Homo sapiens: one gene and its partners. Changing the gene in region 1 together with any one later gene gives a genetic interaction. Each region holds a gene or a part of one and is shown in the gene's direction. Other genes may lie near its edges. The genes, in order: EED, GEMIN5, VPS45, PTEN, DAZAP1, SLC39A3 and SREBF2.

Evidence for each region.
Region 2: changes in EED (region 1) and GEMIN5 together harm fitness less than expected from each alone (positive genetic interaction), as found in Homo sapiens cells (one large-scale study listed by BioGRID).
Region 3: changes in EED (region 1) and VPS45 together harm fitness less than expected from each alone (positive genetic interaction), as found in Homo sapiens cells (one large-scale study listed by BioGRID).
Region 4: changes in EED (region 1) and PTEN together harm fitness more than expected from each alone (negative genetic interaction), as found in Homo sapiens cells (one large-scale study listed by BioGRID).
Region 5: changes in EED (region 1) and DAZAP1 together harm fitness less than expected from each alone (positive genetic interaction), as found in Homo sapiens cells (one large-scale study listed by BioGRID).
Region 6: changes in EED (region 1) and SLC39A3 together harm fitness less than expected from each alone (positive genetic interaction), as found in Homo sapiens cells (one large-scale study listed by BioGRID).
Region 7: changes in EED (region 1) and SREBF2 together harm fitness less than expected from each alone (positive genetic interaction), as found in Homo sapiens cells (one large-scale study listed by BioGRID).

What each region holds. Positions count from the first base shown.
Region 1 is NC_000011.10:86,258,253-86,261,752, forward strand, and holds part of EED (polycomb protein EED), read left to right. Parts: intron 1-3,500. UniProt on the Homo sapiens protein: Polycomb group (PcG) protein. Component of the PRC2/EED-EZH2 complex, which methylates 'Lys-9' and 'Lys-27' of histone H3, leading to transcriptional repression of the affected target gene.
Region 2 is NC_000005.10:154,903,712-154,907,211, reverse strand, and holds part of GEMIN5 (gem-associated protein 5), read left to right. Parts: intron 1-1,735; coding exon 1,736-1,849; intron 1,850-2,582; coding exon 2,583-2,705; intron 2,706-3,500. UniProt on the Homo sapiens protein: The SMN complex catalyzes the assembly of small nuclear ribonucleoproteins (snRNPs), the building blocks of the spliceosome, and thereby plays an important role in the splicing of cellular pre-mRNAs.
Region 3 is NC_000001.11:150,095,276-150,098,775, forward strand, and holds part of VPS45 (vacuolar protein sorting-associated protein 45), read left to right. Parts: intron 1-3,500. UniProt on the Homo sapiens protein: May play a role in vesicle-mediated protein trafficking from the Golgi stack through the trans-Golgi network.
Region 4 is NC_000010.11:87,870,125-87,873,624, forward strand, and holds part of PTEN (phosphatidylinositol 3,4,5-trisphosphate 3-phosphatase and dual-specificity protein phosphatase PTEN), read left to right. Parts: intron 1-3,500. UniProt on the Homo sapiens protein: Dual-specificity protein phosphatase, dephosphorylating tyrosine-, serine- and threonine-phosphorylated proteins.
Region 5 is NC_000019.10:1,417,586-1,421,085, forward strand, and holds part of DAZAP1 (DAZ-associated protein 1), read left to right. Parts: intron 1-618; coding exon 619-785; intron 786-1,080; coding exon 1,081-1,146; intron 1,147-3,500. UniProt on the Homo sapiens protein: RNA-binding protein, which may be required during spermatogenesis.
Region 6 is NC_000019.10:2,737,218-2,741,505, reverse strand, and holds the start of SLC39A3 (zinc transporter ZIP3), read left to right. Parts: upstream 1-1,488; 5' UTR 1,489-1,561; intron 1,562-4,126; 5' UTR 4,127-4,248; coding exon 4,249-4,288. UniProt on the Homo sapiens protein: Transporter for the divalent cation Zn(2+). Mediates the influx of Zn(2+) into cells from extracellular space. Controls Zn(2+) accumulation into dentate gyrus granule cells in the hippocampus.
Region 7 is NC_000022.11:41,864,105-41,867,604, forward strand, and holds part of SREBF2 (sterol regulatory element-binding protein 2), read left to right. Parts: intron 1-2,726; coding exon 2,727-3,176; intron 3,177-3,500.

The sequences.
Region 1 (3,500 bases):
AATACTACATATGAAAATTCATATTGCTTTTTTATTTTTTAAAAAAGCTTTTGTTTTATAAAGGATTTCCTATAGAATTTCTTAAAAATGCTACGTTTTTCAGGATAAGTTATTTGAAATATTCCCATAAAGGGAAAGCATTGCATTTTGGAAATCACTACCTCTAGGAAGAGTTGATTACTTTTTCTTGTCTCTTGATAACACTAATTGGGGCTCAGATATTTCTGAACAACTGTATAGACCGTAATGCCTCACTTGTTCTAAATATTACAACTTTTTTTTTCTCTTTTCTTTGTTTTTTGGTTTTTTTTTTTTTTTTTGAGACAAAGTTTCGCTCTTGTTGCGGAGGCTGGAGCGCAATGGTGCAATCTCGGCTGACTGCAACCTCTGCCTCCCGGGTTTAAGAGATTCTCCTGCCTCAGCCTCTCGAGTAGCTGGGATTACAGGCATGTACCACCATGCCCGGCTAATTTTTGTATTTTTAGTAGAGATACGGTTTCTCCACATGGGTCAGGCTGGTCTTGAACTCCTGACCTCAGTTGATCCGCCTGTCTCAGCCTCCTAAAGTGCTGAGATTACAGGTGTGAGCCACTGCGTCCTGCCTCTATTTATTTATTTATTTATTTATTTTTGAGACAGAGTCTTGCTTTGGCGCCCAGGCTGGAGTGCAATGGCTCTATCTCGGCTCACTGCAACCTCTGCCTCCTGGGTTCAGGTGATTCTCCTGCCTGACCCTCCCGAGTAGCTGGGATTACAGGCGCCCTCCACCATGCCTGGCTAATTTTTTTTATTTTTAGTAGAGATGAGGTTTCTCCATGTTGGCCAGGCTGGTCTCAAACTCCTGACCTCAGGTGGTCCACCCGCATCGGCCTCCCAAAGTGCTGGGATTATAGGCGTGAGCCACTGCGCACAGCCCAACATCACAACTTTTAACCCTGGTCTTCCTCTATTGTGTCAGTAAGAGCATTTTTAAAAATCAGAAGTTTGAGCATGAATAAGAATTTTGCTCCAAGTGATACTATCAAGAAAGTAAAAAAGCCTACTCAAAAGGAGAAAAAATATTTATAAATCATTCTGATAAAGGACTTTGATTTTTATTTTTTGTTTTTGGAGACAGGGTCTTGCCCAGTCACCCAGGTTGAGTGCAGTGGTGTGATCATGGCTCACTGTAGCCTCAACCTACCAAGTAGTTAGGACTACAGGCACGTGCCGCCATACCTGGCTAATTTTGTAAAAAATGTTTTTGTAGAGATGAGGTCTCCCTGTGTTACCTAGACTGGTCCTCAAACTCCTGGCCTCAAGCAGTCCTCCTACCTTGGCCTCCTAAACTGCTGGGATTACAGGCATGAGCCATGATTCCCAGCTAATAAGGGACGTGTATCAAGAATTTTTATAGCTCAACAATAAAAAGACAGCCCAATTTAAAAATGGCCAAAAGTTCTGAATGACATTTCTTCACAGAGCATACACAGATGGCCACTGAGCACATGAAAAGATGTTTAACATATTAATCATTAAGGAAATACAAATCAAAACCATAATGAAATACCACTTCACACCTACTTAGGGTGGCTGTAATAAAAACGTTAGATACTAACAAGTATTGACTGGCACAAGAAGAAATCAGAGCCCTCTCAGACACTGCTGGTGGGAATGTAAAATGTAACTACTTTGAAAAACAATCTGGCAGTTCCTCAAAATGTTACAGAGTCACTAATCCTAGATGTTTACATATGTATGTATATCCTAGGGTTGTGTGGGTGGGGGTGTACATATGTATCCCCAACAGAAATAACATGTCCATACAAAAGCTTGTACAAAATTGAAATCAAGGAATCATTTTTACAGCACTGTTAATTTTCACATGTATTACTACCTCTGGGGTGTTTATGTGATGCATTTATATTCACAGACAGAATGAACATTGTTATATTTCAAGCTTACATGACGTGTCTTTGCTTTACATTCTTTCTTTTTTTTAAATACTGTTTTAGAGACAGGATCTCACTCTGTCAACCAGGCTATAGTAGAGTGATGTGATCACAGCTCACTGTAGCTTGAGCTCCTGGCCTCAAGCAATGTTCCCACCTCATCCTTCTGAGTAGCTGGGACTACATGTGCACACCACCATGCCTGGCTAATTTTTAAAAATTTTTTGTAGAGATACGGTTTCATTATGTTGTCCAACCTGGTCTCAAACTCCTGGCCTCAAAAGATCCTCACACCTTGGCCTCCCAAAGTGCTGGGATTACAGGTGTGAGCTACTGCTGTACATTCTTTATTAATGTTTAATATAACATTGCTCAAATTATAGCTGCATAATTTTTGAAGAGGGACTGTCATTCTATAAAATTGTGCATGATATATGTAGTTATGTTTTCAGCTTACTGTAAAAATCATAAATCTCAGTCCCCTTTCAATTTTTTAATGTGAGTATGGTGAAGGGAAAAGCTAGTATCTTGTTCTGTGGGATAAAATTGCTTATGTCAAATCTGTATTTTATTTCAAAAGTATATTTCCATCAAATTAGGTTATTTAAAGAAAGTTATTTGAGATAAATATGCTTAAAATATTTTTCAGACCACATGAATATTTCTGAACTTACTGTCTTAGTCCACTTTAACCTGGCATTAGAAAGTAAGAACAAGAAATTGAACTTGAAGCCTTTTTTTTTTTTAATATATAATTGGAATTAATTCATTCATAAGAGTGGTACTCTCATGACCTAACGCTTCTCATTAGGTCTCATCTCCCAACACTGCTGCATTGGGATTAAGTTTCCCAACCTGCTTTTTCGGGGGTTCATTTAAGCTGTAGCATTCTGCCTCTAGCCCCCAAAATTCAAATCCTCAATCAGATATGGGTGAGACTCAAGGCAGGATTCCTGCTGAGGTAAATTCTCCATCTGTGGGTCTGGGAAATCAGGCATCTTATCTATTTTCAAAATACAGTGGTAGGATAAGCATAGGATAGACAGTCCCTTCCAAAAAGGAGAGATAGGCAAGAATAAGGGTAACTGGTCCCAAGTAAATCCAAAACTCAACAGAACAAACAAGATTAAATCCAAGGCACCAGAATAATCTTCCTTGGCTCCATGTTTTGCCTTCTGGGCATGCTGGGTGTGGAGTTTGGGCCCCAGAGGCCTTGGGCAGCCCCATCTTTATGGGTTTGCCACGTGCAGCCCACATAGCATCTTATGAGTTGGAGTCGGGTGCCTGCAGCTCTTGCAGGCTGGTGGTGTGCCCTGGTAGCTCAGCAGTTCTGGGATTTGGGGGATGGCTTTTTCCCCATGGCTCCACCAGGTGTTGCTGTAGTAGGAACTGCTGTGTGGCTCTGCCCTTCTGAAAAGTTTCTGCCTGGAGCCCCAGGCTCTTTGTGATGTCTTTTGAAATCTAGAGAGGAAGCCGTGCCTCCACAGTTCCTGCATTCTCTGCATCTGCAGACTTAACACCACATGGACACTGCCAAGATTTGCTGCTTGTACCTTCAGAAGCTATGGC
Region 2 (3,500 bases), on another chromosome or scaffold:
GACCTAGAAGCTACCACCACTGTGGGAACTTGCAAGCTCTCACCCCCTTACGTGGAGTTTGTACGCGGCTTTCTGTCTTCTCACAGAAAAAAAATGTGTGAATGGTTATTAGGTTTTTCTAGTGAGTTAAGCTGTAGTGATGGCTCTCAGATGTCTCACAAAACAGTGTTCTATCACTAACAAAAAAACTGTTAGGTAAAAATTTTAGCACTCTTTTTATTTTGTACATTTACTCGGGACCTGTTGAGAATGGTTTGTCAGACCAAGTGATAAATATCTGGTCCCTGGTAAAATAAACGATTAAATAGCAAACAGTGTAAGTAGAAGCAGTAACTCATACTTAATTCTAAAACAGAATCCATTGATGTGACAGTATTGAAATGGCTAGAATATAGGATACAAGGCATTCCTGATGCTCTCCATCCCAAGGGATAGCTGTTAGACACATAGTTGGGGTAAATAAAGAGCAAAAAGCCTAATGGATTTATTATTTTGGCTCATCAGAATGCTTTTCTAGTCGGGTACAGAGACACATACCTCTAGTCCCAGATCCTCAGGAGGCTGAGGCAGGAGAACCGCTTGAGGCCAGCCTGGGCAACACAGCAAGACCCCCCATCTCTTTATTTTTCTTTTTTTTAAAAAGTCTTTCTTTCACAAAATGGCTATACAAAACATGGATCAACAAGTTGTTTTTAAAAAGTTCCTGTGCTCAGGATTGTGACACCATATTGCATACACCTAGTATTCTCTATTATTAAAGTTACTCCTGTTAGTGTAATTAAATATGCAATTAGTACTTTATGACCTAGAAATGTAAAAAGTGCTTTGTCACCTGAGCAAAGTATAGGAACTCCTTGGCTTATGGTATAAAGTTGTGGAGGGCTGGAAGCTTTTTCCTTAGTCAAAGTTCAAAGTAAGGCGGGCATGGTGGTTCATGCCTGTAATCCCAGCACTATGGGAGGCCAAGGAAAGAGACTTGCTTCAACCCAGGAGCTTGAGACTAGCCTAAGCAACATAGGGAACCCCCATCTTTGCAAAAAATATAAAAATTACCAAGATAATGGCTTGTGCCTATAGTCCTAGCCACTCTGGGAGGCTGAGGAGGGGAGGATCACCTGAGCCCAGGAGGTTAAGGCCTCAGTGACTGTGATTGCACCCACTGCACTCCAGCCTGGGCAACAGTTATATCTTATCTCTAACCAAAAGAAAAAAAAAAAAGTAAGCCAGGAGCGGTGGCTCACGCCTGTAATCCCAGCAGTTTGGGAGGCTGAGGCAGGTGGATCACCTGAGGTCAGGAGTTTGAGATCACCCTGGCCAACATGGCGAAACCCTGTCTCTACTAAAAATACAAAAATTAGCCAGGCATGGTGGCTTGTGCCAGCTACTGGCGAGGCTCAGGCAGGAGAATTGCTTGGACCTAGGAGGCAGAGGTTGCAGTAAGCCAAGATTGCGCCACTGAATTTCCAGCCTGGGCGACAGAGTGAGACTTCGTCTCAAAAAAAAAAAAAAAACCAAAGTAATAGACTTACAGATTCCTGAAAACAGCTAGTTTGGGAGGTGGGAAAGGGGAAACTACTCCTACTTCTTTTCCAGTGCATTTTATCTCAAAAGTTTTGGTAATAGATGAATTGATTATATTGCTAAGCTTGGAATGGCTCTTAATTTTTACAAAGAACTGAAATTCTGTATTATTGTTATCCTTAACTTTTTTTTTCCTTTTTCCCCCATGATGTAGTTTCTAGAGAACCAGTTATCTGCACTCCAGTTTCCTCAGGCTTTGAAAAGTCAAAAGTCACCATTAATAACAAAGTCATTTTACTGAAAAAGGAGCCACCAAAAGAGAAGCCAGGTTGGTATCTAGTAATTAAAATACAGTATTTTGTTAAAGCAGCCTAAAATATTACATATATTACACGCAACTGTCAAAAAACAGTGTGGTTTCTTGTTTGTTTTTATAGGTTCAAAATATTTGTAGGTTTTCTGATTATGGGTTTTTTGTTTGTTTTTTGTTTGTTTTGAGACAGATTTTCACTCCAGTCACCCAGGCTGGAGTGCAGTGGCACACTCTTGGCTCACTACAAACTCCACTTCCCGGGCTCAAGCGATCCTCCTGCCTCAGCCTCCCGAGTAGCTGGGATTACAGGCGCCCGCCACCATGCCCAGCTAACTTTTGTTATTTTTAGTAGAGACGGGGATTCACCATGTTGGCCAGGCTGGTCTCGAACTGCTGGCCTCCAGTGATCCGCCCGCCTCAGCCTCCCAAAGTGCTGGGATTACAGGCGTGAGCCATTGTGCCCAGACTTCCACTTCCATTTTGGGTCATGCTTTTGAATTTTTTTTAGCACTTGATGAAATGTTTTGCAGTTGTTGACACTACATCATAAATGTTAGCAAGAGCGTTTTTGTGTGTATTGTGAACAATGCCCCCAGCAAATTTATTTTGAAAGCCTCTTTATTAGGAGGAGGAGCTTTCTCTGCCTGTGGTGTCGTCCTGCCAGTAGGTTACATTCACACAATAGGCATTCCGTTTTATGTTTCTGATCAGTTCTCCTTCAGATAGTATGTACTTTATTAAATTTCAGAAACCTTAATCAAGAAGAGAAAAGCTCGTTCCTTGCTTCCCCTGAGTACAAGCCTGGACCACAGATCCAAAGAGGAGCTTCATCAGGACTGTTTGGTACTAGCAACTGCAAAGCACTCCAGAGGTACAAAAATGTACTTCCTTGGCCCATCCATAGTCTTCCGGGACTGGTATATAAGGGATGTTTACTTATTTATTAAATGAATGCCCAAAGAAATGTCTAAATTGTTTTCTGTATTTTTATGTTCTCCAGCTCTCCCTTCCCTCCACATCCCTATACCCCTACACCTTGCTGCCAAACTCCCCATTGTGACCCACCGTCAGCACTGCCATGGCTTTGAAATGTAGCGCTCTGCTTTTATTCTAAATCTAATTCCTCCCAGCCATCTGTGTGCCAGAATTGGTATGTTGGCCTAAGTATCTCAGCATGAATAAACTCCTTCAACTCTTTTCCCCATTGAACAGTATCCTATGGAGAAAAAAATCTTTTTTTCTTATTGGAAATATGCTCATAATATGGCATTTTTTTAGAAAAAAATTTGATGGAAGCTTTTGCTTTGTAAGTTTTGTTTTGAAGGGTTGTTTTATTTTTGTTTTTCAAAGTCTTCATTTAATGTCCACTATTTTGATATTTTAATAACTTTATTTTTTAAATTTGAAGTTTACATGTGGAAAAGGGATGCACATAATAAATAAAATTGATGCTTAAGGGGCTGAAGCAGAAGGATCACTTGAGCTCACTTTAAGGCCAGCCTGGGCAACATAGTGAGACCCTCTCTCTATTTAAAAAAAAAAATTTTTTTTTAATTTTTTTTTCAAAGTAAATCTTCCTCCCAGTCCTCTGTTTCTCCTCCCCAGGAATGGAGGACCATCCTCCCTCCCGGTTACTGTCTCCCACTACCCTAACAAGGGTAGTCAC
Region 3 (3,500 bases), on another chromosome or scaffold:
AGAACCTCTCTGAGAGGTGATATTTAAGATGAGCTTTGAGTCATAAGAAAGAACCAGACCAGACACGGTGGCTCACGCCTGTAATCCCAACACTTTGGGCGGCCAAAGCGGGAGGATCACCTGAGGTCAGTAGTTTGAACCAGGCTGGCCAACATGGCAAAACCCTGTCTCTACTAAAACTACAAAAATTAGCCTGGCGTGGGTAGCAGGCGCCTGTAATCCCAGCTACTCAGGAGGCTGAGGTAGAAGAATCGCTTGAACCTGGGAGGCGGAGGTTGCAGTGAGCTGAAATTTGCACCGTTGCACTCGAGCCTGGGCAACAGAGTGAGACCCCATCTCAAAAAAAAAAAAGCAATCACACTATGATTAGGAGAGAAAGCATCCAAAGCAGAGGGAAACACCAGAGCAAAGGTCTTGAAGAAAGAGAGAATTTGGCAAGTTAATGGAACAGAAGGGAGCCCTGCTTGGCTGGAGCATAGTGAATAAGGAGGAAATAAGAGGTTGAAAGATAGGTAGGGTTGGATCACATCGGTTCTCGAAGACCCTAGTAAAGAGATTTTTTTTTAATGTCATAGGAAGCCATTGAAGAGTTAAGCATATGAGTAACATGAACTTAATTGTGTTTTAAAAGATATTTGTGGTAAGAATGGATTATTGAAGGCAAAAATAGAAGCAGAGAGACTACTGAGGAGATGAATGCAGTAGTCCAGGTGAGAAATGGAAGTGGTTTGGGTAGGAGGCTGAGAGAGAAGCCAGAATCAATAGTCATATTTAATGGCACAGATTTATGGAACAAGGGTAAGAGAGAAGTCAAGAATAACTCTCAGGCTTTGAGGAGAAACAGAGTTTTGTTGTTCAGTTGGAGATGTCTATTAGATAACAAGTAGAAATGTCACATATTGAGAGTTGACAAAAACATTAGTAATATTAAAACCTCTGGAAATGTTGAACTGCTCCAGATTAAACATGGAAAAGGCAACTAGTTGGGGAAATGGAAACAAGAGGAGAGTGTATTGGATCATGACAAAGGTATTGGTGAATGAATTGGAGATTTGATGAGGCCAAAGAATTATTACAGAAGAGTATTAGTACAGGTAAATTGGAAGTTGAGAGGTAGTTATTGGATAAAGATATTTTGAATTCAAGATTTCATAGGGGGTTCAGATACTTGTAACGAAGAAGTTTAGATTGTAAGCATGGATGTGGGTGGTTGTAGTGGGTAAAAGAAAAGATCAGGATTGGTAAGGAGACCAGGATGTTAGATGAGTAATCCACAGTGATGTTAAAGTCACTGACAATCTTGAAAAGAGAAGGAGAAAAAGGAGGACAAATAAGCCAGAGCTAAAGTCTTCATGGAATAAAAGTGACCAGGAAAGGAGGTCAGGAGAAAACGGTGCAGCTACATTATGAGCTTCTAAGATAGTGGAAATTTTGAAGGAAGAAGGCAAAGAAATGGTTACAAAACTACAGTGGGTGTCACAGAACATACCTATACCACCTCCTGGCCATGCCTAACAGAAGGAATACTGCAAAGGACTTGAAAATACTCTTATTTACCAATTCTACTTCTAAAAGCTTACTGTATAGATATTCCTGTGCAAGTACACAAAGATACTTAAGCCAGGATGTTCACTGAAGTAATAGCAAAAAAACTAGGAACAAGCTAAATATCTATTAATAGAGGGCTGGTTACCTAAACTACAGTACAATATTACGTATTCTTTTTTTTTTAAATGACATAACTCCTCACGGGTGATATGCAAAGCTTTTTAAGATATATTAGATAGAAAAGCAGGATGTTGTAACATTTCTTTCTTTTTTTTTTTTTTTGAGACAGAGTCTTGCTCTGTCACCCAGGCTGGAGTGCAGTGGTGCCATCTCGGCTCACTGCAATCCCCGCCTCCTGGGTTCAAGATTCTCCTGCCTCAGCCTCCTGAGTAGCTGGGATTACAGGTGCATGCCACCATGCCTGGCTAATTTTTGTATTTTTAGTAGAGATGGGGTCTCACCATGTTGGTCAGGCTGGTCTCGAACTCCTGACCTCGTGATCCGCCCGCCTCACCTCGTGATCCGCCCGCCTCGGCCTCCCAAAGTGCTGGGATTGCAGGCATGAGCCACTGTGCCCAGCCATAACATTTCTTTCAGGTAAAAAAACTGTATAATCCTGGGTGCAGTGGTTTATGCCTATAATCCCAGCACTTTGGGAGGCCGAGCGGGCAGATTCTTTGAGGTCAGGAGTTTGAGACCAGCCTGGCCAACATGGTGAAACCCTGTCTCTACTAAAAATGCAAAAATTAGCCAGGCGTGGTGGCATGCACCTGTAGTCCCAGCTACTCAGGAGGCTGAGTCAGGAGAATCGCTTGAACCAGGGAGGTGGAGGTTGCAGTGAGCCGAGATTATGCCATTACACACCAGCCTGGGTGATAGAGCAAGGCTCCGTCTCAAAACAAAACAAAACAAAACAAAAAAAGTGTACATGTATATAAATATGTGCTTGACTATACATATGTATGTATATTATATATATAATATATTTTCACAAGCACATATATGTATAAATACAGTAACTCTTTTTGTTTGTTTGTTTGTTTTTTTGAGACAGGGTCTGGCTCTGTAGCCCAGACTGGAGAGTGGTGGCGTGATTTCAGCTCACTGCAGCCTCCACCTTTTGGGCTTAAGCCATCCCACCTCATTCTCCTAAGTAGCTGGGGCTACAGGCACATGCCACAGTACCTAGCTAATTTTTGCATTTTTATAGAGACAAGGTTTTGCTATGTTGCCTAGGCTTGTCTCAAACTCCTGAGCTCAAGCAATCTGCCTGCCTCAGCCTCCCAAAGTGCTTGGATTACTGGCATGAGCCACCATGCCCTGCCTACAGTAATTATTTCTGAAAGAATAATCAAGAAGTTGTTAATAGTCGTTACCTCTGGATATTGAGACAGTAGTTAGTTACATATCTATCCTTCCTATTAGTTATTGTATTAGGTATTGTAATCTTGAAGTAAGTATTATGTTTTGTTAATCTTTGGGGTTTTCACAATGTTTAACACAGTGATTTACAAATAATAGGTGTTCAATAGATGTTTGGTAAATTCTATAGGCATCTCTTCTAGTTGATATGCCAATATTTATAGTTGGAAAATTTAAACCAGAGAATAAACTTAATTGATGCTATACAAAATTTAGATTTTTGAAGTTCATAAACAACCCTTTAAAACATTCTGGCTCTGTATTCACTTGGCCACACTATCAGCTCTAGCCACTTTCTTGGCCCTGTATTATCATATTGAAAAGAGTCCTTGATTATAGTGGTATTTATTATTATTTGTCTCATCATAATAGAAATTCTAGGTTTTATTGTTGCTATAATAATAGAAAATATCAAAGGAAATGTGGCAAGAACACAACTTTGCAAAACCAGAACACTGGTGGAAATTTTTTTAGCCCTTAGCTGTTAAATTAGTGTTTAAGCTGTTTGGCAGTATAGCTATATCCACAAA
Region 4 (3,500 bases), on another chromosome or scaffold:
AGTACCTGCCACATTGTAAATACTTAAATGGTAGCTACTGCTCTGAAAAACTGTAATTTCAGGTTATGTATGTAGGGAAATTATTTGTATTTTCATTTATGGTGTATGATTGTAACTGAATTTCCTCAGTTTGGGCCATGTTAGGATTTTGTTTCAAGTTATAAGTGTTTTTAAAAATAAGGGTATTCCTTTAGGAAGTCTGGGTATGACATGTCTGTGATTTTGCTGGTTCATCACAAATGGGAAATAAATCTCTGCTAACTCAAACTGTTGACCAAAGTAAAATTAATTATGCCAATCAAAAACTATTTGCTTTAAAATATAAAAGGCAAAAACTTCCTATTAGCATAATGAAGTAGAATTTTTAAACTTTGTTATAATCTTAAATTTTCTTTAGTGTTGAAGATAGGTCAACTTAACTATCATACATTTTTATTCACATAAAGTAAACTCTGCCTCAAATGTAATAAACTTAATATGAGTTATGTAAACTTTGGTCAATAGAGGTATATTTTTTAGCATTTCCTTTTGAAAATTTCAGCCTTTTGAGGGAGTCTTGCAACTGAATGTCAAGTTACATTTATTACAATAAAATGGACACTTAATATAATCTGTAATGCATTAACATAATATGGGAACTTTTAAAGTATTCAGTCTCTGTATTATTGAGTCCTATTTCCACATTTGGCCAGGATTCTCAATATGATTTAGGCCCAAGACGTGGGAAGAAAGAAGTAAAGAACTAAAGGATTTTTTTCTTCATTTTTTTAATTGAATATGGGGAAAGATGGAATAAGCTTATCTGTCCAGTAAAGGCCATTATGTGTACATAGGGATTATTATTTTTCCCCCCCTTGGGCTGTACTGATTTCCCAGATGTACCACAGCACTCTTAGTAGTGAAGCACTTGACTTCTAGTGAGTGGATTTTTTGTGTGTGTGTTTTATATTGCAGAGTGAATACACTCTGTCTGATACTATGTGACTTTCTGATTATGTGATTTTTATGCATTTTATGTGTTTTGTAAACTAGCTGTATTTTTGGTCCATGTCTAGGTTGTAGAATTGAATTGTGCATTTTGGCATCTGAGCACAGCTGAGTTTTCTAAATCAATCTCTCTCCTTGCACCTAGTTTTTGCTTTAGATCACTACCTAAGACTTACTGTTGATTTAATATTAGAGCACTTAAGCATAGCTTTGACTTTTATTTCCTTTGATTTTTGTAGATTTTCAGGCTGAAGTACAATAAGGTTCTCTGTTCTTTACTAGTAATTGCAAAGATTGTATTCTGTGAATTTTATTTGTTTAATACTTTTGATCTTTTGAAGAGGATGTAATTATTTAAGGTATTATGAAATGCATTGTGATTTGAATTAGATACTCTTTGGAGATGGAGTTTTGCTGTTGTTGCCCAGGCTGGAGTGCAATGGTGTGATCTCGGCTCACCACAGCCTCCGCCTCCTGGGTTCAAGCAATTCTCTTGCCGCAGCCTCCCAAGTAGCTGGAATTACAGGCATGCGCCACCACGCCCGGCTAATTTTATATTTTTTTTTTCAGTAGAGATGGGGGGTTTCTCCATGTTGGTCAGGCTGGCCTCGAACTCTTGACCTCAGGTAATCTGCCTGTCTCAGCCTGCTAAAGTGCTGAGATTACAGGCATGAGCCACTGCGCCCGGCCTCAGATACTCTTTTAATTAGATGCGTTTAAAAATTTAACCCACCATTGCTGGCATGAATAGATGTATTTTTAGAGTGATTCATAAATATCGTATACATGTTTAAAGTTACAAACTTTTTGCTTATTTCAAAATGCAGGATTCTTTTCCATTTAAAATTCCCTCTCTTTGTGAGACTTCTTTTTGAGTATTCTGGTTACTCTAAACTGATTGGAGATGAAATTAGATAGAATTGAAAACTGTACTTTTAAAATGAAATTTTGGGGATGTCATTAAGCTTGATTTTTTAGGTTTTTTTTTTAGTGTGTATTATAAATTATTTTACACTGATTGTCAGCGATAAAATGGAATGCCTGGGATTTTTTAAAATTTATTTTATTCATTTTTATAAGGTAAAAACAGTGTTTTGCTAGGCTTAATTTGACCATGTTGTAAAATTTATTGTATACCTTGAAAGAATCATTTATGAAAGATACTGAATTAGCTAATATATACTCTGTCTTATGTAGTTTTTGATTAACAATACACTTTTTAAATCATTAGCTCATTTGATTTTGCAAAGAAGAACAGGTAACCTAAGAGGCAGACAGAACAGGCATTACTTTTATTTTTCTTTCTTTTTTATTTTATTTATTTATTTATTTATTTATTTTTTGCAGCTTAGGAATTGTAGCTCCAGTGGAATCAGTATCTTGTTAATGGCTAGTGAAAGACTGAGTCTGAAGAAGGATGCAGGACTTTTTTGGCACTTGGTGCAGTATTTTTCCCATTATGTTACATGAGTGGTTCTTAAACTTCAGTGTGTTAGAACAACCTGAAGGGCTTATTAAGCTATGGATTGCTTACTCCACCCTCAGAGTTTCTGATTCAGTAGGTCTGGATTGGGACCTGAGAATTTTTATTTCTTAGAAGTTTTCAAGTGATGCTGATGCTGGTGCTCTGGGGATCACACTTTGAGGACCACCAATGAACATTATCTCCCACCAAGCAAACCCTTAACATGTTATACTCCTTTAGGTTATTAGAATTTATACATGCATTATTTCATTTGACCTGTAAACTCTAAGTAACTTTGCATGGAAAATGTTATCCTGATTTTATAGACGAGATAGTGAGTTTAGAAAGGCAGTATGGTGGAATGGAGCATAGATTTGGAGTTGGCTAGACCTAAAGTCCAGATTAAATCTCTGCTCAAGGCTGGGCGTGGTGGCTCATGCCTGTAATCCCAGTGCTTTGGGAGGCCAGCGTTGGCAGATTGCTTGAGTCTGGAAGTTCGAGACCAGTCTGGGCAACATAGGCAGACCCTGTCTCTACAAAAAAAAATACAAAAATTAGTCGGGTGTTATAGTGCGCATTGGTAGTCCCAGCTACTGAGGAGGCTGAGGTGGGATCACCTGAGACTGGGACTTTGAGGCTGCATTGAGCTGTGATTGGGACACTGTACTCCTGCCTGGGTGACAGAGTGAGACCCTCTCTCAAAAATAAATAAATAAATACATCCCCGCTCAGCCACTTATCAGTTACGTAGATACACTGCCTAACCTTAGTGAACCCTGTTTCGACAACTCCAAAATGGGAGTAAAAATCCTAAACTTGTACAGTGGTTTTTTAGTTTTGTTAAAAGTACAGGTGAGGTTTTTTTCAGAGTATTGGTTGCCATCTGAGAGTGATCCCCTTTCACCTCCTCTAGGACTTTTAGCATTTTCTGGAGACATTTTGGTGGTCACAGCTGGGGTGGTAGAGTGTGCTATTGGCTAGGGGCTTGAAGCCAGTGATGCTGCTTAACATCCTATATGGCACAAGACCCCTCCCCATCAACAAAGAA
Region 5 (3,500 bases), on another chromosome or scaffold:
GGACCTCGGCCTTCAAGTTGTGTCTGCCCGCCTCTTGCTACTGTCTTGGATATTTTAAAGTCCTTTTGACGTTGTTCTGATTTCTGGGCAGGGGACAGAGTAAGTGTGTATTTGCTCTGAGACTGTTAATTTGGTATTTCCATCCCAAGTTACAGGGAAGACCTCAGGCTGCAGGTTCCTAGCTCCGGGCTGAGGTGGCTTGTGGAGGCAGACAGCTGTTGTCTGGAAGTGCAGAGGGCTGGGGGCTGGCCAGGCTGTTACTGAGTTCAGAATAGGAGGAAAGAGTGTGTAGCAAAGTCGGCGCTCCTTGGCCACTGCCAGCATTCAGAGTTGTCTTGTTTGCCTTGCCTTAAACGTTGCCTTCCTGGACGCCTACAAAGTCAGGTTGTAACCGCTGGCCACTGCTGTGCTCACTGGCAGCCCCTGATTTACGTGAGGACCTCAAGTGTGTGTTGGGCAGAATTCCCCAGCGCTTCCCGTACACCCCCCACCCCCAGTGCAGCATCGCTCGGTGCGTGGCTGGTGGACTGGAGGAGTGTGCGTGCCGGCAGCACTGCCAGGCACGTGCCTAATGCTCTGGCCCTGTGTGTTTGTGTTTTCTTCCCGATTTCTGAGCAGAGACTCTGCGCAGCTACTTTTCCCAATATGGAGAAGTCGTAGATTGTGTTATCATGAAAGATAAAACCACCAACCAGTCTCGAGGCTTTGGGTTTGTCAAATTTAAAGACCCAAACTGTGTGGGGACGGTGCTGGCCAGCAGACCGCACACGCTAGATGGCCGAAACGTAAGTGCCCTTCCGGGAGCTCACACCCGCTCTCTGTCTCCCCTGTCCTTCCTCTGCTTCATTTTTTCCTGGACTCTGACCGATGTTTGCGTTAGAGTATGTTTGAACGTGGGGTCGATTGGGAAGGATTAAGCCTTGGTGCTGAGGCTGGATATTGCAGGAGGATACAGGGTGAATGGAGCCGGCGGGGCGGGGCGGGCCGGGCTGCTGTGCCGTGGCTGCTGTTGTGCTGACACCCTCTTTCCTAGAGAAACAGCCTCTTATTCACAACCAGCTGATTTGAAATTTCCTGCAGATCGACCCCAAGCCATGCACACCCCGGGGGATGCAGCCGGAGAGAACACGGCCGAAGGAAGGATGGGTAAGGGGCTGGGCCGGGCGGCCTCCTTGTGTGTTCTCCACTCCACGTGGAAAGGAAATGCGTGCCTTCAATCTGCTGTTGTCGCTCGTTAAGATTGAGGGCGACGCAGGTCTTCTGGGTTGGCACTCGAGCAGCTGAGGATCACCCAGATTTATCAGTGCCGTGAGTGTTTTACAGCCAAGAAAATTCTTACTAATCTATCTTAGGGAAAAAAAAAATGACAGCTCATGCCACTGATTATCAGGAGCCAGTCAGCTTCCCTCTGTGCCCTGTGTGCCCTCTGTGCCGGGCCTGCCCCCTCCCACTGCCTGGCCCTCCTCAGAGGTGGGCCATCCTTCCACTGCCGGGGCTGGGCCGGGCTGTGTCAGCTCGTGCTGGCCACTTTACTGCTCCACTTGAGATCCCCTGACGTGGCAACTTGGGTTCTCTGACCTGCGCCCTGGTGCTTGCCTGGCCGACAGGGCACTGTCCTGGCATGGGGTCTCCTTGGCATTTGGGTCTCACCACCACCCACACCTCACCTTCCTCCAGCCCTGCAGTTCTCACACCGGCACCAGGAGCCTGGTGGGGCGGTGCAGATGGGAAAGCTCTTAGCCCCATAGAACGTGCTGGACAGTGCAGACCTGGAGGCCTGCTGAGGCACCGGGTGCCAGCCTCTCCACAGTGTGGGCAGCAGGGTGGGGTCTATATGTATTTACATCCATCTCTGTCCACATACACCATTCCTAAGGACCGGAGGGTGCGTCTCCTAAAATGACGGCCACCCCTCGCATGCACCCACCGTCAGCACGCTGGAAAGCGGCTGCAGGGAATCCCGTGTCATCTGTGTCCAGGCCGTGTTCCCAGCTCCAGAATTGTTTCACAAGTGTCTCTCATAGCTGGTTTTTTTCAGACTGGAATCCAAGGTTCATATTCCATCTGGTTATTAATGTCTCTCTAGCTTTTCTTAAGATATAATGGGCACGTAGTAAACTGCACCACTTGATGATTCTGACCCATACAAACACTCATGAAACCATCCCGACCGTCACGGCAGCGAGCACTCACCCCACGCACACACTCATGAAACCATCCCAACCGTCACGGCAGCGAGCACTCACCCCACGCACACACTCGTGAAACCATCCCGACCGTCACGGCAGCGAGCACTCACCCCACGCACACACTCATGAAACCATCCCGATCGTCAACGGCAGCGAGCACTCACCCCACGCGCACACTCATGAAACCATCCCTACAGTCACGGCGGCGAGCACTCACCCCACGCGCACACTCATGAAACCATCCCTACAGTCACGGCGGCGAGCACTCACCCCACGCGCACACTCATGAAACCATCCCTACAGTCACGGCAGCGAGCACTCACCCCACGCGCACACTCATGAAACCATCCCGAACGTCACGGCGGCGAGCACTCACCCCACGCGCACACTCATGAAACCACCCCGAACGTCACGGCGGCGAGCACTCACCCCACGCGCACACTCATGAAACCACCCCGAACGTCACGGCGGCGAGCACTCACCCCACGCGCACACTCATGAAACCACCCCGAACGTCACGGCGGCGAGCACTCACCCCACGCGCACACTCATGAAACCACCCCGAACGTCACGGCGGCGAGCACTCACCCCACGCGCACACTCATGAAACCATCCCGACCGTCACGGCGGCGAGCACTCACCCTCAAAGGTTTATAGTCTTTTATTCAAAGCAGTTGGAACAACTTAAAATGTGATAGCCTTGGATAGGGAAAAAAAAAAAAAAGGATGGTTGGTGGGTGGGGGCAGGAGGAGAGCAGCCCCAGCCCTAAGGGCAGCCCGGGAGCTGGACCAGAGACTCCTGGCTCTGGCCACCCAGTGAGCGCCGAGGCCCCGGGAAGTGGTGCCCAGGAGCAGGCGCCCTTGCCAGTGGGAGGCCGGCAGAAGGGGCTGTGTGGTTTGGGCCAGTGTTTCACACAGCTCTTGAGCTGCTGGAGGTTTCCGTAGCCATCATTGTCACCTGCTGGAGATGTACAGCCTGAAATCCAGCTTCCTCTCTGCTCATTTCGTCGTCGCTGCTGCCTTTCCCCTGCCGTCCTAAAGTCCCTGCCTTCACACTGGAGCACTTTTCCACGTGGCAGTGGTTGTAATTCGGAATAGCTGAGGCAAGGCACGCACTGTGTCGTGGGTCCGTTTAGCTGAAATGTAGCTCTGCAGAAATGCTCAATCCCTGTCTCCTTGGGTCTCTCTAGAAAAGTGAGAAAGTGTCTCAGCAGAGCCCAGTGTCTTTGGACTTAGCGGGCTTGTGGAGTGTTCTGCTCTGGCTTTCAGCTGACTCTTTAAACCAGCGCGGATTGGCCTTTATGTCCTCCG
Region 6 (4,288 bases), on another chromosome or scaffold:
TTGGTATTTTTAGTAGAGATGGGGTTTTGCCGTGTTGGCCAGGCTAGTCTCAAACTCCTGACTTTAAGTGACCTGCCTACCTCGGCCTTCCAAAGTGCTGGGATTATAGGCATGAGCTACCACATGCAGCCCTGTTTTAGGGTGTTTCAAAGGCTGCAATTGAAGTGAAGCAGTCATCCAAAGGCTCAACTGGGGCAGGACCCTCTTCCATGATCACGTTCATGGCTGTTGGTAGCATTTGGTTCCTTATGGACGCTTGTGCTGAGGGTCTCATTGCCTTGCTGACTGTTGGCTGGAGGACACCCTCAGTTCCTTTCCCTCTGGATCTCTCCAGCATCTTAGCTTGCTTTGTCAAGACACGTAGGCTGAGAAGGCGAGAGACAGGCTCTGCTGGCAAAACAGAAGTCACAATCTCTCATAGCCTAATCGCAGAATGACATCCCATTCATTTGCCATTTTCTATTTGTTAGAATCAAGTCATCAGGCCAAGCGCAGTGGCTCATGCCTGTAATCCCAGCACTTTGGGAGGCCAAGGTAAGAGGATCACCTGAGGTCAGGAGTTCAAGACCAGCCTGGCCAACATGGTGAAACCCCGTCTCTACTAAAAACACAAAAATTAGCCGGCATAGTGGCACACGCCTATAATCCCAGCTACTCGGGAGGCTGAGGCAGGAGAATCGCTTGAACACGGGAGTCGGAAGTTGCAGTGAGCCAAGATCGCGCCATTGCACTCCAGCCTGAGTGACAAGAGCGAGACTCTGTCTCAAAAAAAACCTTTTTTTTTTTTTTAGAGATGGGGTCTCACTATGCTGCCCAGGCTGGCCTTGAACTCCTGGACTCAAGCGATCCTCCCGCCTCGGTCTCTTAAAGTGCTGAGATTACAAGTGTGAGCCACTGCGCCCTGCCAAGATTTGGTTTTTAACTTACGCGTTACCTCCTATACTTATTTTTTCATGGTTTGAACATGTAACATCTACTTTCTTAGCAATTTTGCAGTATGCAATGCATTGTTACGAGCTGTAGCCACCATGATGTACAGTCGATCTCTTGGACTTACTCCTCCTGCCTATCAACAGAGATTTGTTGAAGGGATGAATCTGCTTCTTCAGCCGTCGGTAAGGGGATCAGCAGCGAGGACGCTGAGAGAGGAGCCGCCTCCGTTGGAAATCCCTTCCCATCCACCTCCAAGCCTCTTTCCAAGCGGGATTCAGCACCAGGCGCCCCTGGACAGCTCTGGAAACCCAACCCTGCCGGAACCGTTCCTCGCCAATCCGGGTTTCCCGCCGGGGCCGCTTGGTGGCTGCGCCCGCCGCTCAGCGGGAGGAAACCCCTTTCCTGTGCCGGTAGGAGAGGTGGAGTCGCATATGAGTGGCAGGTTTCGCAGCCAATAGTATGGAAAGTTCTGCCAGCGGGTCTCGGGGAGGCCAATGGGCAGGGGCGTGGGCGGGGCGTGGACCAGCCGCGCCGAGCGGGGCCTCTCCGGGCCGCGTCTGTGGGGTCGAGACTGCGCGGCCGTTGGGCGTGCAGCGGCGCCAGTCGGCGGACGAGGGGCCCCCGGGAGGTAGGTGCGGGCAGAGAGAGGACCTGGGGCGGCGGGGCGGGGCGGCGCTGAGCGGCCGGGGGTCTGTTGGACTCTACCCGCACGTTAGCCGAGGCCCGTCTCCGGTGCCCGGTAGCGCGAGGCACACAGAAGGCGCTCAATAAGTGCTGATTGAATGAATGAGCCCGTGCCCTCCTCATCCCGGCCCGAGCAGCCTCCGGTTTGAGAGCGTGCAGGCCACCCTCACCTTCACTGTACAGACTGAGGTATCCAGATGCCGGACAGGTCTTTATTGGGCGCCTACTGTGTGCCTGGGTGGCTCTGCGCTGGGTGCAGCTGGCCCTGAGCAAGACAGACAGCCTGGTCCCGCCCAGCTCACCGCCGGGGGGGAGGGACGACTTTAAATGACTTAAAATAATGTAATTCCTAGCTCCCTCTGTAGCACAAAATAAAAGAAAATAACACCAGGGAAGGGGGCGGGGAGAGCTCTGAGTGGAGACATCTGAGCAGTGACCCGAAGACCTGAATGCAGTGAGGTAGCGGGGCCATGAGGCGCTTGGGGCTGATGGTGGGGGAGAAAACCCAGTTGGGGAAAACTCAAGGACAGGGGAGGAGCTGAGATTCCTCCTAAGAACGGTGACATTTTGGGGTCCAGGGTGAAACCGACTTCACTTTGGCCCATTGCATCAGGTAAAATGCGGCCCTTATCAGTGGCCACACGCTTCCCCTCGTCCATGTGTTCAGCCAGCGGTTTTTGAGTATCTGTTCTGCAGCAGGCCTTCCGGCGGGTACAGGGATATGGTTTAGGGCAGGAGTCAGCCAGGGGCAGAGAGGGAGGCCCTTTTTTTTTTTTTTTTTTTTTTTTTGAGACGGAGTCTTGCTCTGCAGCCCAGGCTGGAGTACAATGGCGCGATCTCGGCTCACTGCAAGCTCCACCTCCTGGGTTGAAGCAATTCTCCTGCCTCAGCCTCCCGAGTAACTGGGATTACAGGCACGTACCACCATGCCCAGCTAATTTTTTTTTTTTTTGAGACAGAGTCTTACTCTGTCACCCAGGCTGGAGTGCAATGGCTTGATCTTGGCTCACTGCAACCTCCACCTCCTGGGTTCAAGTGATTCTCCTGCCTCAGCCTCCCAAGTAGCTGGGATTACAGGTGCCCACTACCACACCCAGCTAATTTTTGTATTTTTAGTAGAGACAGTGTTTCACTGTGTTGGCCAGGCTGGTCTTGAACTCTCGACCTCAGGTGCTGGTCTCGAACTCTCGACCTCAGGTGATCTGCCCACCTCAGCCTCCCAAAGTGCTGAGATTACAGGTGTGAGCCACCACTCCCAACCGAGGGAGGCCCTTTTGAGGGGTCCTGGATGCAGAGAAGCAAGAAAGAAGAAGGAGGCCTCGCTGGAAGGTCAGGGGAAAGAGAGCAGTGTTCCAGGTGGAGAGAGGAGAACCCATGCAGAGGTCCTGAGGCACGAGCAAGCTTGGCACAGAAAGGACCAGTGAGGGCCGAGGCGAGGCAGGAGCTTGTCATGCAGAGCTTCAGCCTCAGGGTACAGAGTTTAGACTTTATTTCGGGGCATGGGGAAGCCATGGACCACCACCATCCAATAGCATGTTCTGCAGTGATGAGAGTGTTCCCTTTGCTGTCAAATACGGTAACCACAGAAGTCAAGTAGGCTTGTGTGACTACTGAGCGCTTGAAATATGGCCAGGGAGACTGAGGAGCGGAATTTTGTATTTTATTTAGTTTTTTTTTTTTTTTTTTTTTGAGATGGAGTTTTGCTCTTGTTGCCCAGCCTGGAGTGCGGTGGTGCCATCTTGGCTCACTGCAACCTCTGCCTCCTGGGTTCAAGCGATTCTCTTGCCTCAGCCTCCAGAGTAGCTGGGATTACAGGTGCCTGCCACCACGGCCGGCTAATTTTTGTATTTTTGGTAGAGACGGCGTTTCACCATGTTGTCCAGGCTGGTCTCGAATTCCTGACCTCAGGTGATCCACCCACCTCGGCCTCCCAAAGTTCTGGGATTGCAGGTGTGAGCCACTACACCCAGCCTGGATTTTTTTTAATTTTGATGAACTTTTTTCTTTTTTTGAGACAGTGTATTAGTCAGGGTTCTCTAGAGGGACAGAACTAATGGAATAGTTATATATATAAAGGGAAGTTTATTAAGTATTAATTGCACACGATTACAGGGTCTCACAATACATTGTCTGCAGATTGAGGAGCAAAGAGAGCCAGTCCGAGTTCCAAAACTGAAGAACTGGCCAGGTGCAGTGGCTCACGCCTATAATCCTAGCACTTTGGGAGGCCGAGGCAGGCGGATCACGAGGTCAGGAGTTCGAGACCAGCCTGGCCAACATGATGAAACCTCGTCTCTACTACAAATACAAAAAAAATTAGCTGGGAGTGGTGGCGCGTGTCTGTAATCCCAGCTACTAGGCAGGAGAATTGCTTGAATCCAGGAAGCGGAGGTTGCAGTGAGCGGAGATTGCACCATTGCACTCCAGCCTGGCAACAGAGCGAGACTCTGTCTAAAAAAAAAAAAAGAAAAAAGAAAGAAAGCTAATGCAGTGCCCCTGATGTTCACAGTTGCTGGACTGAGACATGAGCCTCCAACTGTGTGGTTGGGCTCGGTAGCACATCGTGGGACTTGGGTGTGCGCCCACAGATGGTTTGGCCCTGCAGTGACCAGAGCAGCCCAAGCCGCCACCATGGTGAAATTGCTAGTGGCCAAAATCCTGTGCATGGTGG
Region 7 (3,500 bases), on another chromosome or scaffold:
CTGACTTCAGGTGATCCACCTGCCTTGGCCTCCCAAAGTGCTGGGATTACAAGCATAAGCCACCACCCCTGGCCTATTTACATTTAATTATGATTTATTTTTCCTATCCTTCTGCAAGCATATATATATATATATATATATATATATATATATATATACACACACACACACACACACACAAAATATCAAAATATATATATATATGTATATATATATATATTTTTTTTTTTTTTTGAGACTGAGTCTCGCTCTGTTGCCCAGGCTGGAGTGCAGTGGCACGATCTCTGCTCACTGCAAGCTCTGCCTCCCGGGTTCACTCCATTCTCCTGACTCAGCCTCCCGAGTAGCTTGGACTACAGGCGCCCACCACCACGCCCAGCTAATTTTTTGTATTTTTAGTAGAGACGGGGTTTCACCGTGTTAGCCAGGATGGTCTCGATCTCCTGACCTTGTGATCCGCACGCCTTGGCCTCCCAAAGTGCTGGGATTATAGGCGTGAGTCACCGCGCCCGGCCCAAAAAATCTTTGTGTTTTTTTGTTTGTTTGTTTTGTGTTCAGAGAAGGGATCTGGCTAGGTGCCCTGGCTCATGCCTGTAGTCCCAGCACTTTGGGAGGCCAAACCGAGAGGTTGCTTTTCAGGAGTTTGAGACCAGCCTGGGCAACATGGTGAAATCTCGTCTCTACAGAAAATACAAAAATTAGCCGGGCATGGTTGGCGCACACCTGTGGTCCCAGCTACTCAGGAGGCTGATGTGGAAGGATCGCTTGAGCCTGGGAGGTGGAGGCTGCAGTGAGCTGAAATTGCAACACTGCACTCCAACCTGGGTGACAGAGCAATACCCTATCTCAAAAAAAAGAGAGACAGAGTCTCGCTGTGTTGCCCAGGCTGTTCTCAAACTCCTGACCTCAAGTGACCCTCCCACCTTGGCCTCACAATGCACTGGGATTACAGGCATGAGCCACCACAACCGGTCTCAGCAGCTTTCTGTTTGTCAGATATACAAATATACCCCAGGCTCCAGGCCCCCACATCCCCCAAAAAACACACACACACACACACACACAGCATCAGAGACCTGAGAAGGACATCTTGGTGGAGGTTTGGGGGAATGGAGATGGTTCCTTTTATTTTTTTATAGTGGTGGTGTGGTGGTTTTTGTTGTTTTGGTGTCTAAATCAGAGCATCACATGGCCTTGAAGGTTTGGAAAGGAGGGGCCATAGTTCAAGAACAAGCAGTAGCTTCTTGGGAACGTATTGGAGAGAGAAAAGAGAAAAGAATATGGACAATGTAGAGAATTGTAGGTCTGAAACTATCTGGGACAAAGCTGAGGCTCCTGACTTCTATAGGGACCAGTCATATGAAAAAGAAGGGAGTCGTGAGAGATGATGGGGTAGTTGTGGGTTAAGTTGGGTTTTGGAAAGCCTTTGGGAAGATTGACCAGGGAAGAGGCCCTGGAAGTAGGCTTGAGACCCTTTGGGCTGGGAATTTAAGGGTCCCAGCTACTTGGAACATGATCTAGAAAGGGAAGCGAGGTCTCCAGGTGGACAAATCCCTTTGGACCCAAGACTCCTTGCCCAGAGAAAAGGGGCACAACCAGACAAGGGCTAGCATGGGCCCTGGGAAGCACGGAGTTCAGGGTGGGGCAGGCTTGCTGTGTCCTGGCCTGGCAACATACCTGCACTGTGTTGTGGTAGAAGAACACAAAGCTGGGAGGCAGAGAACTGGTTCTAATCCTAGCTGTACCCTGACAAGCTGTGTGACCTTGGCCAAGTTACTTTCCTCTCCTGGACTTCATATATGGTTTTTCCATTCTTTGCATCCCTGAAGCTCCATGACTTAGGGGCCATCAACTTGGTTGTCCCTGAGTGTTTCCAAGAATACCAACAGTGCCCAGGGTTTTACTCAGCTTGGAGAGGAGGCCTAGAGCCTCCCTGTGGTGAGGAGGAAAGAGGTTAGAGCAAGTTTGGGTCTGCAGTGCTAGGATTAGAGGTGGCCTCACAAGCCAAAACCGCTATACTCACAGCCTTAGGACAGTGACTCCCTACTCGCTGCCTCAGTGTTTCCAGCTGTAAAAAAGGACCCTTGGTACCTTCGACAGAACAGCACCCATCTAGTACAAAGGTAGTTCCTTTTATGATCAAAACAATCAGGAAAAAGAGAGAGGCTGGGTGCGGTGGCTCACACCTGTAATCCCAGCACTTTGGGAGGCTGAGGTGGGTGGATCACCTAAGGTCAGGAGTTCGAGACCCACCTATCAATATGGTGAAACCCTGTCTCTACTAAAATTACAAAAATTAGCCGGGCATGGTGCCGTGCACCTATAGTCCCAGCTACTCAGGAGGCTGAGGCGGGAGAATCGCTTGAACCCAGGAGGCAGAGGTTGAAGTAAGACAAGTTCGCGCCACTGCACTCCATCCAGCGTGGGCGATAGAGGAAGACTCCGTCTCAAAAAGAAAAAAGAAAGAAAATGAGAGAAAGGGCCTGGAGGTGAGTGTGAGGAGGGAAAAGAACATCAAACAGATAAAGTCCTGTCCTGTTGTCCTGGGACCTTGGGCAGCCATCTTGGCCCAGATGATCCCCACAAGAAAGAGGTAAGGGTTTCCTGACCCATTTCTGCCATGGTCTTAGGAAAGTCATTGAGTTTTCATGCCTTAGTTTCTTAAGCAAGTTTGAAAGTTCACTTTTTGGATAGCAATAAAATTACTCCTTTTCTTTTGTTCACAGAGATGCTGCAATTTGTCAGTAATCAAGTGGGAGAGTTCCCTGACTTGTTTTCAGAACAGCTGTGTAGCTCCTTTCCTGGCAGTGGTGGTAGTGGTAGCAGCAGCGGCAGCAGTGGCAGCAGCAGCAGCAGCAGCAATGGCAGGGGCAGCAGCAGCGGAGCTGTGGACCCTTCAGTGCAACGGTCATTCACCCAGGTCACATTACCTTCCTTCTCTCCCTCGGCGGCCTCCCCACAGGCTCCAACTCTGCAAGTCAAGGTTTCTCCCACCTCAGTTCCCACCACACCCAGGGCAACTCCTATTCTTCAGCCCCGCCCCCAGCCCCAGCCTCAACCTCAAACTCAGCTGCAACAACAGACGGTAATGATCACGCCAACATTCAGCACCACTCCGCAGACGAGGATCATCCAGCAGCCTTTGATATACCAGAATGCAGCTACTAGCTTTCAAGGTGATTCAGAAGTTAGAATGGTAGTGGTTGGTTGGTTCCAATGTTTATGTGCCAGTTTGCAGACACTGTAAATATTTCTGTCGTCTTCAGGAATGGCAGGTATATCAATATGGTCCTGTCTGAATGAGGTTCTGGTAACTGGCAATAAGAACTGGTACAGGAGCATGTCACATTCTGCAGCTTCAAATACCTTAATATCTATTGCGCCTAATTCAAAAATACTTGGTTAAAAAATCCAGCAAGCGGCCGGGCGCGGTGGCTCACGCCTGTAATCCCAGCACTTTGGGAGGCCAAGGCGGGCGGATCACGAGGTCAGGAGATTGA